2 separate regions of the Homo sapiens genome follow, and region 2 is linked to region 1. Evidence: fine-mapped expression QTL. A gene starts in region 1. The other region holds a variant in brackets. All regions are shown on one strand. Distances are from middle to middle. Region 1 holds the start of TRIM6 (tripartite motif containing 6). Region 2 overlaps TRIM6-TRIM34 (TRIM6-TRIM34 readthrough).

What was found. PIP is the estimated chance that this variant, and not a neighbour inherited with it, causes the effect. A credible set is the group of variants that fine-mapping cannot tell apart.
Region 2: its variant is the best candidate, but not a certain one, in a credible set for the expression of TRIM6 in fibroblasts (GENCORD, PIP 0.89).

Annotation. Positions count from the first base shown.
Region 1 is chr11:5,592,200-5,600,677 of GRCh38, forward strand. TRIM6 (tripartite motif containing 6) reads left to right here and starts at 4,438. Exons shown (of 8, transcript NM_001003818.3): 1 at 4,438-4,715. The coding sequence starts at 4,699. It overlaps TRIM6-TRIM34 (TRIM6-TRIM34 readthrough), which reads left to right and starts at 4,438. Exons shown (of 14, transcript NM_001003819.4): 1 at 4,438-4,715. The coding sequence starts at 4,699. It also overlaps a transcript of TRIM5 not described here. RefSeq lists enhancers at 3,760-4,054, 4,209-5,126, 4,373-4,422, 8,160-8,454.
Region 2 is chr11:5,630,400-5,638,877 of GRCh38, forward strand. It overlaps TRIM6-TRIM34 (TRIM6-TRIM34 readthrough), which reads left to right. Exons shown (of 14, transcript NM_001003819.4): 8 at 1,856-2,355; 9 at 3,405-3,500; 10 at 4,232-4,462. It overlaps TRIM34 (tripartite motif containing 34), which reads left to right. Exons shown (of 8, transcript NM_021616.6): 2 at 1,856-2,355; 3 at 3,405-3,500; 4 at 4,232-4,462. The coding sequence starts at 1,933. It also overlaps a transcript of TRIM5 not described here. Among named protein-coding and RNA genes, the nearest start is that of TRIM34, 9.6 kb to the left of the region's middle. RefSeq lists an enhancer at 1,778-2,017. The variant A/AAT (reference allele first, on the strand shown) is at 4,068.

The sequences.
Region 1 (8,478 bases):
GCACAGCAAAATTCATGTTTTATTCATCGGTATTACTCCAGAGCCCTGCCAAATGCTTGGTACTTCATTATAGTTAATAATGCTACCTATCACTCACTGACGAGCTATTGTGTTTCAGGGACTGTCCTAAGTACTCCACATATACTTGCATATTTAGTCTTCACAATAACTCTATGCAGTAGGTATTTTACAGATAGGGAAACTGAGGCCCAAGAGAGGTTAAGTAACTTGCCCCAAATCATACAGATGGTAAGTAAATGAGCTAGGATCTGAATCTTGGCAAAACTGGTTCCAGAGTCCATCATCTTAAATACCATCTTAAATACCGTGCTATATGACATATATAGTTTAATATGTGTCTGCTGAAAAGAAAGAACAAAACAAATTTTTAAAAAGAAGGAAGGAAGAAAATATAAAATATCAAAGGAAAGATGGGGCCAGGCGTGGTGGCTCACACCTGTAATCCCAGCACTTTGGGAGACTGAAGTGGGTGGATCGCTTGAGTCCAGGAGTTTGAGATCAGCCTGGGCAACATAATGAAATCCTGTCTCTACAAAATACACAAAAATTTACCCGGCACGGTGGTGTATGCCCTTAGTCTCAGCTACTTGAGAGGCTGAAGTGGGAAGATCACTTGAGCCCGAGAGTTTGTGGCTGAAGTGAGCTGAGATTGTGCTACTACATGCCAGCCTGGGCAACAGAGTGAGATTGTCTCAAAAAAAAAAAAAAAAGAAAAAAGAAAAAGAAAAAAGAAGAAAAAATGAGAGGAAAGTAGGGAAAACAAGAAGGATGGAAAAAAGAGAGGGAGGAAAGGACCAAAAAAATGCATTAATTAGGTCCATGTTTGATGATCAGAAGCATCTGAAAACAAAATTGGTGGCTTGTTTCTCCTACATCCCTAAGCCTCTGGAACAAGAGGTGTTTCTCCCTGAAATTTGTTTTCATTTGGTTTTACTGAAGTTCTTCCTGTAATCAGATGTTAACAATTATCTTTCAGAAAATCCAGTTAGGCCTATCCTGAATTCTCAAGCATAAACTACCCTGATTCTTAATCTTAGCCTTGCAATATCTACTTTTTTCTTTTCTTTTGTTCCCATCAGCTCCCAGCTGGTAGTAATGAGTTAAGAAGGGTTTTCCATGAGAGGGGCAGAAACATTTCTGACAACAGGAATCATCTAACACTGCTTTCAAACAAGTTGTACTGAAAAAATATACTAGAGATTTTTTTCACAGGAAGTCTCTCTCCTGTGAATATATTAGAGATTTCCTCAAAGAAAATATATTCGAGCATATTAGAGATTTGCTCACAGAAAATCTATCTCCTGAGTTTGTATTTTTTTTATCACTATTTGGCTATGAGAATATTCTGTGACCCTTGTCATGGTCCTGTTTGCTTTTCCTGAAACCTCTTTCCTATCAAATGTTAATATCCACTTATTGCTATTAAGAAATCTTGACACCTCAACCTGTGCACTAAACAATATTCCTGGTATATACTGAGTATTTAATATTGAGTATTGTAATAATAACAGGCTGGCTCTGTTGATACCACCCTGAGTCTAGAACTGCAGCAGTGGGTCCTGAGTCTAGAACTGCAAGTACTCTGAGTATTCAGGAACTTGGGGCTGTCAGCAAATCTGTGCCCTCTTTACCTTCAAACCTGTCCTACTGGATGCATCATATTACCCCACCAAACCTCTGGATCCCACATACTTGGTTCCCTTTTAACACTAACAGTATTCCACTGTATTGGGTATACCACTTGTTTTTCAATACATTTAATACTTGATGAACAGTTGGGTTGATTCCATTTTTTAATATGAGTAAAACTGCTATGGACATTTGTGTACAAATCTTTGCACGGATATGTTTTCATTTCTTTTGAGTAGATTCCTACGAGTGGATTTGATGGATTATGTGGTAAATTTATATCTAACTTTTCGAGACCCCTTGAATTATTGCCAAGTACCTTCATTTCTTCTCAACCGTCAGAATGCCCAATCTCCCTGTTCAAGATGAGAAATTATAGAGAAAATAAAAACTGCCTTGGTTAGCAAACAAAAAGGAAAAATTCTGCACACTGAGAAACAGTCTTTCATTCTGTTTTTTGTTTTCTTTTTTGTTTTGAGACTGATTATCACTGTGTTGCCCAGGCTAGAGAGCAGTAGCAGGATCATGGCTCACTGCAGCCTCAACCTTCCGGGCTCAAGTGATCCTCCCACCTCTCAGCCTCCCAAGTAATTGGGACTACAGGCACGTACCGCTATGCCTGGCAATTTACTTATTTTTTTTAGACAGGGTCTTACTATGTTGCCCAGGTTGGCCTCAAAATTGTGGATTCAAGCTATCCTTCCACCTCGGCCTCCCAAAATGCTGGGATTACAAGCGAGCCAACATGCCCAGCCAACATCCTTTTTTTTTAACTGAGCCTACTAGCCCCAGAAATGAAGCCCTATGCTGACAAGACTATGGAGCCTGTAAGTTACTTCCATTTATATCAGCTCTTAGAAAATGGCCTGAGAAGGGACTCTGGGTTGGGCTTCTCCATCCCTTTTCCAATATTTCTAACCCTCTGGGTGTCAATCATACCATTTTGTATTCCAAGGGACTTAAATGTTGGCTGGGCCAGTGGCAGGGTGGTGTCCATACTGGGCAGTTTGGGTGGGGTCAGGAGAATTTCAGAGCATAAGCAGGCTTTGACCTGAAGCGTCATCCAGGGGCAATATGGAGGCAGCCATACCTAAAACCGTTGTGAAGAAAGCTACACAAAGGGTGATCTGAAATAACCTTTGCGTGGCTTCTTAAGCCTGCAGACATGAGGTAGTCACTGAAATAGTGACACATGTCTGCACTTACGAGATTCCAATGACCTTTCATTTGCCTGGGGACTGTCCAGAGAAATCTCTTGATACTTAACCCAGCTCTCTCCCTACTGCCCAATCCTCCGTCCAGACTTTTGTATGGACACCCCAGTCCCTTCTCTCTCTATACCTCCCTCCCCAAGCCACCTTCTAAGGCAAGGTGATACTCACCTAATCAGTCTCCTTAGGGAGGAACTTTGACATTCTTTTTCTTCTCAGAGTTTCTGTGCTATTGAAACCCTGTAGTTAGAGTTCTGAGGCTCAATAAGCTTTACATGTATTCATCAGACCTAAATAAAAACAAAGATTGTCTTCTAGTTATATAGGTCAAAATTACAGATACACACACACAGCTTTATACATACATACGTGTAATTTTAAACTGATGAATTTTAATGATCGTTTGGCAAAACATGCCATTATGCAAAGGGGCTTTTACTCGTATAACTTTATATGTTTATTTAGACATTTTAATTAATACGTCTATATGGAGTACAGGTGTATTATCAGTGTAATTAAACTCTGATATGATATTAGAAAGCTACAGTACACTGCAGACAATTTACAAGGGTCATCTCTGGCCTGGTGTTCTCAAAGGCCTCCGGATTTGCCGTTCATCAGGTAAGATGAACAGCTTTGCGTTGCTACCTTCAAAAATTCTTTTTTTTTTTTTTTGAGAGAGAGTCTCGCTCTGTCTCCAGGCTGGAGTGCAACCTCCACCTCCCGGGTTCAAGCGATTCTCCTGCCTCAGCCTCCCGAGTAGCTAGGACCACAGGCGCGCCCAGCTAATTTCTGTATTTTTAGTAGAGACAGGGTTTCATCATGTTGGCCGGGATGGTCTCAATCTCCTGACCTCGTTATCCGCCCGCCTCGGCCTCCCAAAGTGCTGGGATTACAGGGGTGAACCACCGCGCCTGGCCTCAGAAACCATCTCCATCTCCCTTACCACCTGAGGGGTCACTGGTGACCACACCCATGGAATCGGCTGGATCTCCTGCGGGGCTGGACAATTTGACCCTCCTCCTCCCCAGGCCCCGCCCCTTCCCCCCTGAGTCTTTCGGCCTGGGTGGAGGACGCGGCTGCTTCAAGTCCTTGGCTCTGATCCAGGCCACAGATTCCAGGTTAGTGAGCAAGTTTATTTTCTGGCCAGCTACCGCTGTCCCCACTTGTCTGGAGAGTTTGACCCGCTCTGCAGGTCGGGTTGGGGGTGGTTCACGGGTGAAAGAAGAATGAGGGAGACTTCTGCATTTTCAAGTGAACTCAAGTTTGGGAAGGGAGCACAGAAGAGGCACCTTTGCAGCTGGGAATAGGCCGTGTAAAGAGAGTTAAACCTCTATTCTACAAGCTGAAGTATGTAGAGGAGGCAGCTCTGGAAACTGCTTTAGGGAATCACTGCAAACCATTTTGTCAGGCGTGGATTCAGAGTCAGCATCCCTTCCCCCCTTCCCCCGTTCTCCCCTTCCCCCCTTCCCCCTTCCCCCTTCCCCCTTCCCCCTTCCCCTCCCCCATCTCCAGCCTGGCCGCTCCAGGAAGTGAGCACCGTTTATCCCCCACCCCAGGCGGCCCGACTCCTCCCAGAAGGAGTTGGGAGATGAGCCTTCCGCAAACTCCTGACCTGTGGGTCCGTCCGTTCAACGGCCAAAGGCTGGCGGAGGAGGGATCCCCTGCCTTTCTCGGAACGGAACGGAGCAGAGTCGTGCGTGGTTGAGTTTAGATAAAAGCCGAGTGAGCGCGCTCTGTTCCTTAAGATTAGTTTAAGGTGCCTTGGATTGCTCTGAAGAGCTTTGACCACCTGATATTGCTTACATCTGGAACTTCTTGGCTTCTCATTCCCCAGATGTGCGGGTCAGAGAGGTATGTCTACCGTTCTGTTGACTGGCTCTTATTGTCACTTCTGGCAGAGGTGACAGGGCAGTGAAAGAGATAAGGTCCTTTCCCTTTCGGAACTCATTATATCTTTATTTCTTTTTCTTTCTCACTGCAAATGACCCCACTGAGGTTAGAGACATTTTAATCAGTCAGTCAATAGAGACAGAAATGTGTGGTTAGGAGCATAGATGCCGCAGCCAGACTGCATGTGTTCAAATCCTGACTCTGACAGACACTGGCTGTGTGCCCGAAGACTGTTAACTTGACTTCTTTGAGCTTTAGTTTCTTCCATCTATAAGATGGACGGAGTAATATGTATATCTTAGAGTTTTGGTGAGGATTGAGTGAGACAGATTTAAACACGTAGGAGGCTGCCTGACACAAATTATGGTCATTATTACTGGCAAACTCCATGCCTAGCTTTAAAAAAATGCACAATCAAAACAATTTTTAAATTATAGGTTTCTGAAATGCAGGGGGTAGAAATTCTTTTGAAGTGGAAATTAAATTTTTTGTTTTGAAACTGATTATGTTCCAATTCAAATATTTATTGAGTCCTGTTAGATAATCAATTGCAGATAATAGGTTAAATATAACCCTACACAAAGATAAAAAAAAATGTTATTCCTAAAGTGCAAGAACTCATGCCCAACTCACTTATAAATGCAACTGCCACCTATTTTATTCCACTTTCACTAGGGCTCCCAGCTGGTGGACGGGCCCGCTCTGTCATTCCTAACTCTGAACCCCCAGCCTACACCAGCCCCAGTATCCCCTGCTGAGTCACTGATTTTTATTCTGAAAGCCATTTTGATATCGATGCAAGCTTCCATTCTAAAAGATGCTTCGTATCTAAATAGCAGGCCATTCTCTGTCCCCCTCCCTCTTCTAGCTGTTTTGCACCCTAAATTGTATCCACCTGGGAAAGAAGGTCCTTTATCTAAGGCAGTGCTTCTGAAGCCTTAATGTGCGTAAGAATCACCTAGAGAACTTTAATATTAAAGTGCAGATTCTGAATCATTCCAGGAAAGACTGAGATTCTGCATAAAGAACTCCAAGTGCTTGCAGTGTTGCTAGTTAGCAGACCTTTTTCAGGCGTCTGGTTCTGATTTAATTGGTCCCACCTGGTTGTGAATTTGGGCTCTTTCTTCTGCTAATTTGATGCACTGGGCTCTGGGACTGCAGGCTCTTCTCGTCTGCACTCCTCACAGTCAGAATGCCTTCTCTCAGCCCGTCCACACTGCTCTGGAGACTTGGCCTCAGTTGGAAACTGGCAGCCTCCCATATCTCCCTTGGGCTGCACTTAGCTGCAGTGGGCAGTCAGGGCTTGCTGGTGTGTGGGCAAGGGTCACCTATGCTAACTGTATGCTCCCCTCCTTCACAATTTCTTTCCCAAGCCTCAGCTTTGACAAGAGACCTCAACTCTTACAAATCTTTTTTCTGCTCAAGAATTTTTCTCTGTCTAAAGAGAGTATTAGATGAATATCTACAGCGCATATTAGATAGGAAAAAGACATATAATGAACTAGAAATAGAATGAAGCCACATATGTAATGTTACATACTCAAGTAGCCTCATTAAAAATAAGCGGGTGAAATTAATTTTAATACATTTCATTTAACCCAATACATGCAAAATACAATTAGGACATGTGATCAACATAAAAAAATTAATAAGATCCTTTAACTTTTTTAAACTAAATCTTCAAAATCCAATGTGTATTTTGTACCTAAAGCAACCCATTTCTGAGTAGCCACACTTCAAATGCTCAAGAGCCATATCTGGCTACATGTTTGACAACACAGTTCCATTATGCTTAGAAGATCAGAAACCAAGCTTTTAATTTTTCTTGTATTTTTTTGTTTCTGTCAGTTTATTGAGTTCTATCTAGTAAGTTACAAATTGTAAGCATACAGTTCTGTGAATTTTCACAGTTGCAGTCAGCTGTGTAACCACCACCATGATCATGATACATAAAGGGCATTTCCCTTTATGTATTCACCCTTCAAATTTCCTTATGCCCTTTGCAGTTCAAACTTTTCTCCCACTCCTGGGCCCTGGCTTCCACTGATGTACTTTCAAATACCATAGCTTTCTCTTTTCTAGGATTTCACATAAATAGCATCATACAATAACTTAAATTTGATGTTTGGGTTCTTTCACTTTGCATGCTTTTGAGATTTATCTTGTTGTATATATTAACAGTTTAATTGTTTGGTAATATGCCACTGTATGGATACACCACAGTTTGTTCATTTACCAGTTAGTGATGTCATGGATTCTTTTCAGTTTGGGACTATTACTACATTGCATTTATGAGGCAGTAGTTCTCCTTCAAGAGAATTGGGTACGCTAAATACAGTTTTGCCTGAAATGAAAGTGTGCATGTGTTTGTTGGGGAGGATGAATTGGAATTGGACTTTCAATTAAAATATAATACCAATACAATTATTATATTTATTTATTTATTTATTTATTTATTTATTTATTTTGAGACGGAGTCTCGCTCTGTCGCCCAGGCTGGAGTGCAGTGGCACGATCTCGACTCACTGCAAGCTCCACCTTCCGGGTTCACGCCATTCTCCTGCCTCAGCCTCCCGAGTAGCTGGGACTACAGGCATCCGCCACTACACCCAGCTAAATTTTTGTATTTTTAGTAGAGACAGGGTTTCACCGTGTTAGCCAGGATGGTCTCGATCTCCTGACCTTGTGATCCGCCTGCCTCAGCCTCCCAAAGTGCTGGGATTACAGGCTTGGGCCACCGCGCCCGGCCAACACAATTATTTTTTAACAGTAACACTTTGATAAGATAGCACATTTATTTCTATACTCTAGTGCCAACATCAAGGCCAACTATAAGCTCAGCAGTAAGCTATAATTTTCAATCCATTATAAAGTTAATTGATCATTTCCTGTGTTAGCTGCAGTGCTAAGGTCTGGGGCACCTGGAAGATAAATAGAGCCTCTATTGCCTCTAGAGCCTCTATTGCCTCTATTATCAAAGGCAATAGAGCCTTATAGTGCAGTGTGCTAAGTGAGATGATGTGGGTATGGTAGGAGATATTAACAAAGGAAATAATAGTGCAGTTCCCACAGGTGTGATTAATTTGGTTAAACAGACTCTCAGATGATAGGTAAATACGTCTGTAACACCAATTAGTACTACCAGTTAGATGCACAGAGTTCATTAATTTGTTAATTATATTTTGCACCCTTTATGGAGATGAGGAATATAAGGGAGTAATAAGAGCTCCAGCTCTGCAGCCTGCGTATCTGCATTCAACACCGGCCCCGCCACTTGAAAGATCTACTAAATACCAGTTTATACAACTATGAGATGAGATTTAAGGGACATTCATAATGTTGTTATGTGGAATTATTGAGTTATTATGTACAAAATAATTAAATTCTTGCTGAATACCTAATGGGCTTTCTGTAGATATTTGCTGTGAGCATCGCTGCTGCTAAGCATGGCAAAGCTGAAGAGCCAGGCTAGTACTTGCAGAAGCACCACAGAACACTAGATGGCAGCGCCAAGAACCTGTTTTCGGCTCGCTAGATCCCCCAGCAGGGCCGCTAGGAGGCTTATGCTTACATCCCATGACTTTTTCTTACCCTTATCTGAGACACTTTCTCAGGCCCTTTCTTCTAAGGGGAGTGTTGTTATTGGGAGGCAGTTTGATATACTTTTTAAATCCACCAGGTCCTCAAGATGGGGGTAAATTGGTACAATTTACAGGGCCTTGTG
Region 2 (8,478 bases), 38 kb after region 1:
CCCTGCCCCCACCTCCTATTCATTGGAAAGAGACTGTCACTTTTACTTCATTTAGGAAGTGTCACATATCCAGGTTCCTCTAGGCTCATGTGAGGCCAAGGCCTAGGGCTTTTTGCATATCAGCCACACATTTAAAAACTTTCGAACATGTTATGATGCTATGTCCTCCATGAACGGGGCATTCACTTCCATGATTCCTTCTGCCTAAAATATTTGTTTTCTTTCTCATTCTGTATTCCTTTCTCATTATTCAGCTTTCATTAAACTCTTACTTATCCAAGCAAGATATCTTGGATAGTTCTCTATTTAGCACATTATTTGGTCTTCTAAAAACCTATACCTCTCTATGATGGTGTTTTTTACACCTACCATTTTACATTTTATGAATGATTATATAATTAGCTTCTATCTTCTTAGGTGACTGTTTACTTTATTCTGGCTAATACCATCTGTTCATTACTCAACTTTGGATTTTAATCCATTTCCTGAATTTTAATCACGGAAGATAATATGTCTTCAGTGAGAATTTCCAAAATAAACACATGAATAATTGGCATTCAATTAGTGGATGTGGATTTAACACAGACAGAACTTCATCGCTCCTAAATGTGGTCTCCCTTTATGTATTGGGACATCTCTCTCATGGCCAACAGCCATCTCCTTGCTATTTCTATTCCTCGATGATCTGACATTGGTATGAATCTGTGATCTATGTGTAATTCAGCTGGTTACACCCCTCCCCCAACGAATACACACCTTTGGGTTCCTATCAACCTCTGTAACATCCTTCAGGCCAAGAAGAAATCCTACCATCTACAAACACAAGACCCCCCCAGAAATTCCCAACTTATGTGGTTTCCTCCATTTCTACACTCTCATAACCCTGGATCCCAATCTACTTCTTTCAGGCTTTACCTCGGCTTTTCTTTGTTTAAATAAGTGGAGTAGCATGGAGACCTCTGAAAGAGAACTCTGAGGGTATTATGTTCACTCCAATTCTACCATCGAATTGGGTGATCTTTGTAAATCATTTAATTTTATTTATTCATCTGAAGAAAGGGAGTACTCTTATTTCTCAAGAATTTTGGAAGGAGGAACAAACAGGCCAAAGTGATTTTTAAATTGTAACTGGTAATGAAATCTCCATATTGTGGTCATTGCTGTTTCTGTCGGTATCTCTGGAAAGTCTGTGAGGGCATGGGAGGATTTTGTGTGGGTAGATGTGTTAGGAGGCGAGCACTTCTTCACTGGAAACCACATCTGGGGTTCTAAAGTTCAGCTATTGAAGAATTTCCAAATAATGGAAGGAAGATAATGAAACAATGATAAAGTTTTAGTCATCTGTGGAGAGACAGGGAAGTTTTTTTTATATGTTTATCAAACATTGTGCTTCTCTGTGTTCTAAACACTGAGGCTATAGCAGTAAAAAGACAAAAGTGCCTAATCTACATGTAGATTATGTTTTAGAAAGAAGAGGTGGACATTTAAAAATAGATAATGATAATAAAAGAAAGATGGCAAATGTACACTGAATGATGAGTTTGTGGTTGTGCTGTACTTAAGTTTGTCTTAGCAGCCCTTCTGATGAAGGGACATGTAAGGAGAAAGTTGAAAAAAGTATAAACGAAAGTCATGCAAATAGCAACAGGATGGTAATTCTAGGCTGAGTAATGAACAAGTGCAAAAGCCTTGAGGCATTAACAGCTCGCCCAGACCACTTTCAGCCATTTTTGGTTTCTCTTCCTCATCTTCTTTGTTCTTTGATATTGCAGTCTCGGCCAGTCTTTATTGTCTGTGCAATTAGAATGCTTTTTATTTGTACCATTCTTATACCATCCCCTTTCAATCTTCTCAGCCATCCAGGGGTCTTTAACCAGAAGAGAGAGGAGAGCCTCAGGAGTTAGGACCAGAAGAAGCCAGGGAAGCAGTGCAATGGCTTCAAAAATCTTGCTTAACGTACAAGAGGAGGTGACCTGTCCCATCTGCCTGGAGCTGTTGACAGAACCCTTGAGTCTAGACTGTGGCCACAGCCTCTGCCGAGCCTGCATCACTGTGAGCAACAAGGAGGCAGTGACCAGCATGGGAGGAAAAAGCAGCTGTCCTGTGTGTGGTATCAGTTACTCATTTGAACATCTACAGGCTAATCAGCATCTGGCCAACATAGTGGAGAGACTCAAGGAGGTCAAGTTGAGCCCAGACAATGGGAAGAAGAGAGATCTCTGTGATCATCATGGAGAGAAACTCCTACTCTTCTGTAAGGAGGATAGGAAAGTCATTTGCTGGCTTTGTGAGCGGTCTCAGGAGCACCGTGGTCACCACACAGTCCTCACGGAGGAAGTATTCAAGGAATGTCAGGTAGGGCCCTAGATGGAGGGAGATGGGGCAGAAGATGGTAGTTGGTGGAAAATCTCACCTTTTCATCCTTTTTTTTTTTTTTTTTTTTTTGAGACAGAGTCTCACTCTGTCGCCCAGGCTGGAGTGCAGTGGCGTGCTCTCGGCTCACTGCAACCTCTGCCCTCTGAGTTCAAGTAATTTTCCTGCCTCAGCCTCCCAAGTAGCTCGGATTACAGGCGCCTGCCACCGCGCCTGGCTAATTTTTTTTTTTTTTTTTTGGATTTTTAGTAGAGACGGGATTTCACCATCTTGGCCAGGCTGGTCTTGAACTCCTAATCTTGTGATCCACCCACCTCGGCCTCCCAAAGTGCTGGGATTACAGGTGTGAGCCACCATGCCCGGCCTTTTCTTTCTTTTTTTTTTTTTTTTTTTGTGAGCAATAAAGCTTTTTAATCACCTGGGTGCAGGCGGACTGAGTCTGAAAAAGGAGTCAGCCCTTTTCATCCTTCTTTACCCCCTGTGGAACCATAATTCTGAGTCCCGTGATCTTCTCCATGTACATCTTTCACACTGTGCTCAGCTTCCAATGCCTGGGGTACACTCTTGTGTATTCCTTTCATTTACATAACAGATGATCCTAGAGTACAGTCTCTTAGCCAAGAATGAGAAATTTTTGTCTTGTTTTTTCCTTTTTCATTGTATAAGTGATAAATTCCTTCCCAAAGTTAGCTCTCTTGCTTCTCTAAGCAGGATAATTGCTAAGGAACATTGTGGATTGAATGAGGAAAGAGCATTGATAAGAGGAAAGGACTTTCTGCAGGGTAAATACTTACTCTAAGGAAAGACAGAATCAGGCTACTCCTTTTGAGGGGTATTGATTTTCATCACAATGAATGAACAATACATTCATCTCCTCAAAATTTTCCCCATGTCATAGATTCTAATCACCAGCTTCACAGTTTCTGTAAATTGCTTTTTTCTGGGATCAACTTGATTTTTTCCCTGTTTGTCCTCTATCCAGATACTAAGAAAGCTTATAGCTTGACTGTAGTGTGATTCCCTTCTCATAGGAGAAACTCCAGGCAGTCCTCAAGAGGCTGAAGAAGGAAGAGGAGGAAGCTGAGAAGCTGGAAGCTGACATCAGAGAAGAGAAAACTTCCTGGAAGGCAAGAGGAGATTCTGAAGGTTTTCTGAGACAGGAATCTTGACAGGACCTTAATCCAAGGAGGCCTCGTCCTTTTTATTCCTTGACATTGCATGAGTCCTGAAGCCATTTGATTAGTTCTCTTCTCTGTCCTGTCCCTGTTGGGGGTGGAGGCTAGAAAGTGGACATGTTACAATTACACATACATACCTGGAACTGAGCACAAAGATAGACTCTATGATGAGGAAGGCTAGCAAATACTGTGTTCCATTGCTCTTTTCCAACGGGGCTCTACTACTTCTGGTGGAAGACACTACATAAAGGACTATGGTTTTCCTCAAGATTCAAATTAGGAGTGTGGTAAGGCAGGCAGTCATGAATATCCAGGAAAGCTATCTAGAAGCTAAGCCTTATGTTTTATATTTTGTCTCAGGGTTGGCCTAGATAAGACAGTTTGAGGTCATTGTTTTGGTAGGTACTGAAAGGAAAATAGTAGGAAAAAATAGCTTCCCTCCAAGTACCTCTATTGCTTCTACTCCCTTGCTGATTTGAACTCCCTGAAAAAAAAAATCGATATATAGATAATACA[A/AAT]ATATATATATACAGATAATATAAATACACACACACACACACACACACACACACACACACACACATATATATATATATATATTTCCCTACTGGCTCCTAATCCCTTGCACAATAGGCCTTAGCCTGACAAACTTACTACAACTCTCTCTTGTCCATCCTTGCAGTATCAGGTACAAACTGAGAGACAAAGGATACAAACAGAATTTGATCAGCTTAGAAGCATCCTAAATAATGAGGAGCAGAGAGAGCTGCAAAGATTGGAAGAAGAAGAAAAGAAGACGCTGGATAAGTTTGCAGAGGCTGAGGATGAGCTAGTTCAGCAGAAGCAGTTGGTGAGAGAGCTCATCTCAGATGTGGAGTGTCGGAGTCAGTGGTCAACAATGGAGCTGCTGCAGGTAAGAAGGTTCGCTCAATCTGAGATTCTGGGAACACAGTTCCCTCCTGTGTCCTTGCGTTCTCATCCTGGTGGTGACACTAAGGGGTTTCTTTGGCCTTGCAGTGCCGCCTTGTCGTCCATTCTAGATGTCATGGACATGAATGACATTTTTATTAATTTATGAAGTAAGGGAATACATTTTACCTTGCAGAAAAGATCCATTATATCTAGTTATAGTCTCTAGGCCCCTATTATATGTGATCTAGTGTCAAGCATTCATCAGACTTCTCTTTACTCTGGTTAGTCACAGGTAAACACATGCATTTTCAGGTTTAAGAGCATACACATTTAAGAAATGTGTTCTATTTAAGTTTAAAATATGCTTATTTGTTATGCAAATGTTCCCTGTTAATTTTTTTTTTTTTTTTTTTGAGACGGAGTCTCGCTCTGTCTCCCAGGCTGGAGTGCAGTGGTGCGATCTCGGCTCACTGCAAGCTCCGCCTCCCAGGTTCACGCCATTCTCCTGCCCAGCATCCCGAGTAGCTGGGACTACAGGCACCCACCACCACGTCTGGCTAATTTTTTTTGTATTTTTAGTAAACATGGGGTTTCACCGTGCTAGCCAGTATGGTATTAATCTCCTGACCTCGTGGTCCGCCTGCCTCGGCCTTCCAAAATGCTGGGATTACAGGCCTGACCCACCGCACCCAGCCCCCTGTTACTTTTTTTTAAACATAAAGTGATAGAATATTGAGCCTTTTGGGGAGAAAGATGGACAAATATATAGACAGACAGTGCTCTCCTTTCTTTGCTGAATTTCCAAATATTTCCTTTTTAAGATTTGGAACGAAGCAGGAGAGTAACTGATTTTCATTTGTTGAATTGTTTGCTTTGTCTCTGGTGCTTATATCCCAGCTTTTTTTAAATTCCTTTTTCCTTTTGTCTTCTTTTTTTGTTTAAATTTAAGATTACTCTGGAACAGAGGTTCCTAAACGTATTTTACACTCATTAGTATGGCTATAATAAAAAAAGATGGACAATACCAAGTGTTTGGGAAGATGTGAAGAAATTGAAACCTTCTTGAATTGCTAGTAGAGATGTAAAATAGTAAAGCTACTTAGGAAAAACTGCTTGGCAGTTGCTCAGAAATGTAAAGAGAGTTCTCATGTGGCCTAGCCATTCCATTCCTACCTATATACCTAGAAGAACTGAATACATATATTTGTGCATAAACTTATATATGAAAGTTCACAGCAGTATTGTTCATAAATAAAACAACTCGTATCTCCTTAAACTGATGATTGGATAAGCAAAATGTGTTATATCCAAACAATGTAATATTGTTTAGCTGTGAAAAATAATGAATTAATAATACATGCTATGACATGGATGCACCTTGAAAACATTATAATTGAAAGAAGGCAAACACAAGTTCTTTTTTGTATGATTCCATTTATATGAAAGTCTGTAAGTAGCAAATCCGTAATATAGAAACTAGATTAGTGGTTGCCAGAGCTCTGGGGAAGAATAGGAAGTAATTGCTAATTAGTGTACAATTTCTATTTGTAGTGATGAAAATGATCTGGATTTACTGTGCAATGACGGTTGCACTACATCGTGAATATTTTAAAGCCTGTTAAATTGTGCACTGTAAAGGGCAAATCTTATGGTATTTGAACTACATCTCAGTAAAAACAAAAACAAAAAGGTTCCGTAGGCCCTTTTTTATGGTTCTTCCTTAAGCTCTTCACAACCCTTTGAATCGCCACCTTCACAAAAGAACACTGTGTTTATGTCATTTGTCCAGGCATTTGTCCTATTTCAGTCAGTCTTAGTTGCTATTTGGTCACTTGGAATTTAAAAAAATATTGGTAGATCAAAAATTATAAATGCTGTGGGATTAACATTTCACTTCTAGATGTTAGCTTCAAAGAATGGCAAATGGAAAACTTAGGAACTTATTCTTTTATCTGAGTAGGGACTTTGGCTATTCCTCTCCAATATGTTAAGATATAATCTGTTGGCGGGGCGCGGTGGCTCACGCCTGTAATCCCAGCACTTTGGGAGGCCGAGGTGGGTGGATCACGAGGTCAGGAGATCGAGATCATCCTGGCTAACACAGTGAAACCCCGTCTCTACTAAAAATACAAAAAATTAGCCGGGCATTTTATAATATACAAAAAATTAGCTGGTGATGGCGGCTGCCTGTAGTCCCAGCTACTCAGGAGGCTGAGGCAGGAGAATGGTGTGAACCCAGGAGGCGGAGCTTGCAGTGAGCCAAGATGGCGCCACTGCACTCCAGCCTGGGCGACAGAGCGAGACTCAGTCTAAAAAAAAAAGATATGTGCTGTTGTATTTGTGGTATGTCTCCTCCACAATCCCATCTCCTGAGAGTCCCTGTAACAGCTTTCTTTCTATATGGATTCTCATGATGGCGATCGGGATGGATGGTGTTATCATATATCCATTGTTTGTTTGCTAGAGGGACTGATACTCATTTCGTAAGAGCTGCATTCAACACTTACTGCCAAAGAACGATCTAGACAGAAAGACGCTCAACTTGAAAACTGATGCAAAAATTAGATGAGATTTTAGGTTGTTTCCCTTATAAAGGAGATACTTTGATTTTTAATGCTTTCTGTAATAGTTTTATTATATTTGGCCATTTTTATTTTTGAAAGGATGGAATGGTAGGTAGCTAAATGAGGGAAAGAAGATGGCAGTTACTATTATTTAAAATTTTTTTTCCAGGTTTCTTAAAATTTTAGATTCAGGGGGCACATTCAATTCCATGGCATTTAGTACATTCAGATTGCTGTGCAACCATTAAGTGGGATCCCTCTCTGGACTTTTTCACCATCCCAAACTGAAACTGTACCCATTAAAAAACAGCTCCCCATTCCCTTTGGTCACCACTGCTCTACTTTGATAACCACTATTCTACTTTCTGTCTCTATGACTTTGCCTATTCTAAGTACCTCATGTAAGTGGAATCATAGAATATTTGTCCTACAGGTTTCTTATAAGGGTCTGTTGCATAATGCTAGGGTTTGGGCTACATGGTACTCATTATTTTTGTTTCGTCAATATCCATTCCCCATTTTTCTGGTAATAACACCTGGAATTACTCTTGCAAGAAAGACTAGCATGTCTATTTCCATCCTTGTACTTGTTTAGACCTGAGAAAATCAGCACTATCAAGAATGAATGAGTTAATTATATGTAAATCAGCGTATCCAATCCTTACATCCCTACCAGCCACACAGTGATTATTTTAAGTTGGACATCTGACCCAATCCTGAATGCTTGTGGGTGACAAAATTGTACTGTCATTGCAGTGAAGGGAAGTTCTCCTTTTTAGCAGAAAATAATATCAGTGAAGATAATTCAAATAAAGAGATTCAAGTTGCTATCAACTAAAATCTGAGAATACAGTCAAAATATAGGGAAGAAATGAGAATTAATAGGCACAGAGAGGCCAGAATTGTGACAGAGGTTTGAGCTTCCAGAGCCATCTGTGACTAAAGTAATACCTCTCTGGCCACAACCCTTACTTTCTTCCCAGTTAAGGCAATTTTAGTTGTTGAACAACAAAACTATGCTAATACAGAGAGCAAAACCATTTATTTGGTTGTACACCAGCTGGTGTCATGAAAGAGTTAAAGCCAAATATATTGGTACATCTTGCTCAAAACAAATTAACCCACAGTGGTGATGATGGGGGAATGCAGATGACTAACAGAAGTTAAGGATGGACTGGCTTGATAAAATGTTTTAGTGTCTGGGACAGGGACTGAGTGAATATTGATACCAGTTTGACAATACGGCATAAGAAAGGAAACAATATGGCTGGAGAACAGCTTATGTTTTAGATATTCTTAGTTACTGGTGCCGTTTTTTCTTCTTTGTGGAATGTAGTATTGTACCTGTACAGAATGAAGTCTAGCTGCTTTTTTTCACAGTCCAATGAGATGCAGACAGACTTGGAAAAGAAGGGAGTTTATTTTTGCAACTGGTTACAGGGAGAAGGTCAGA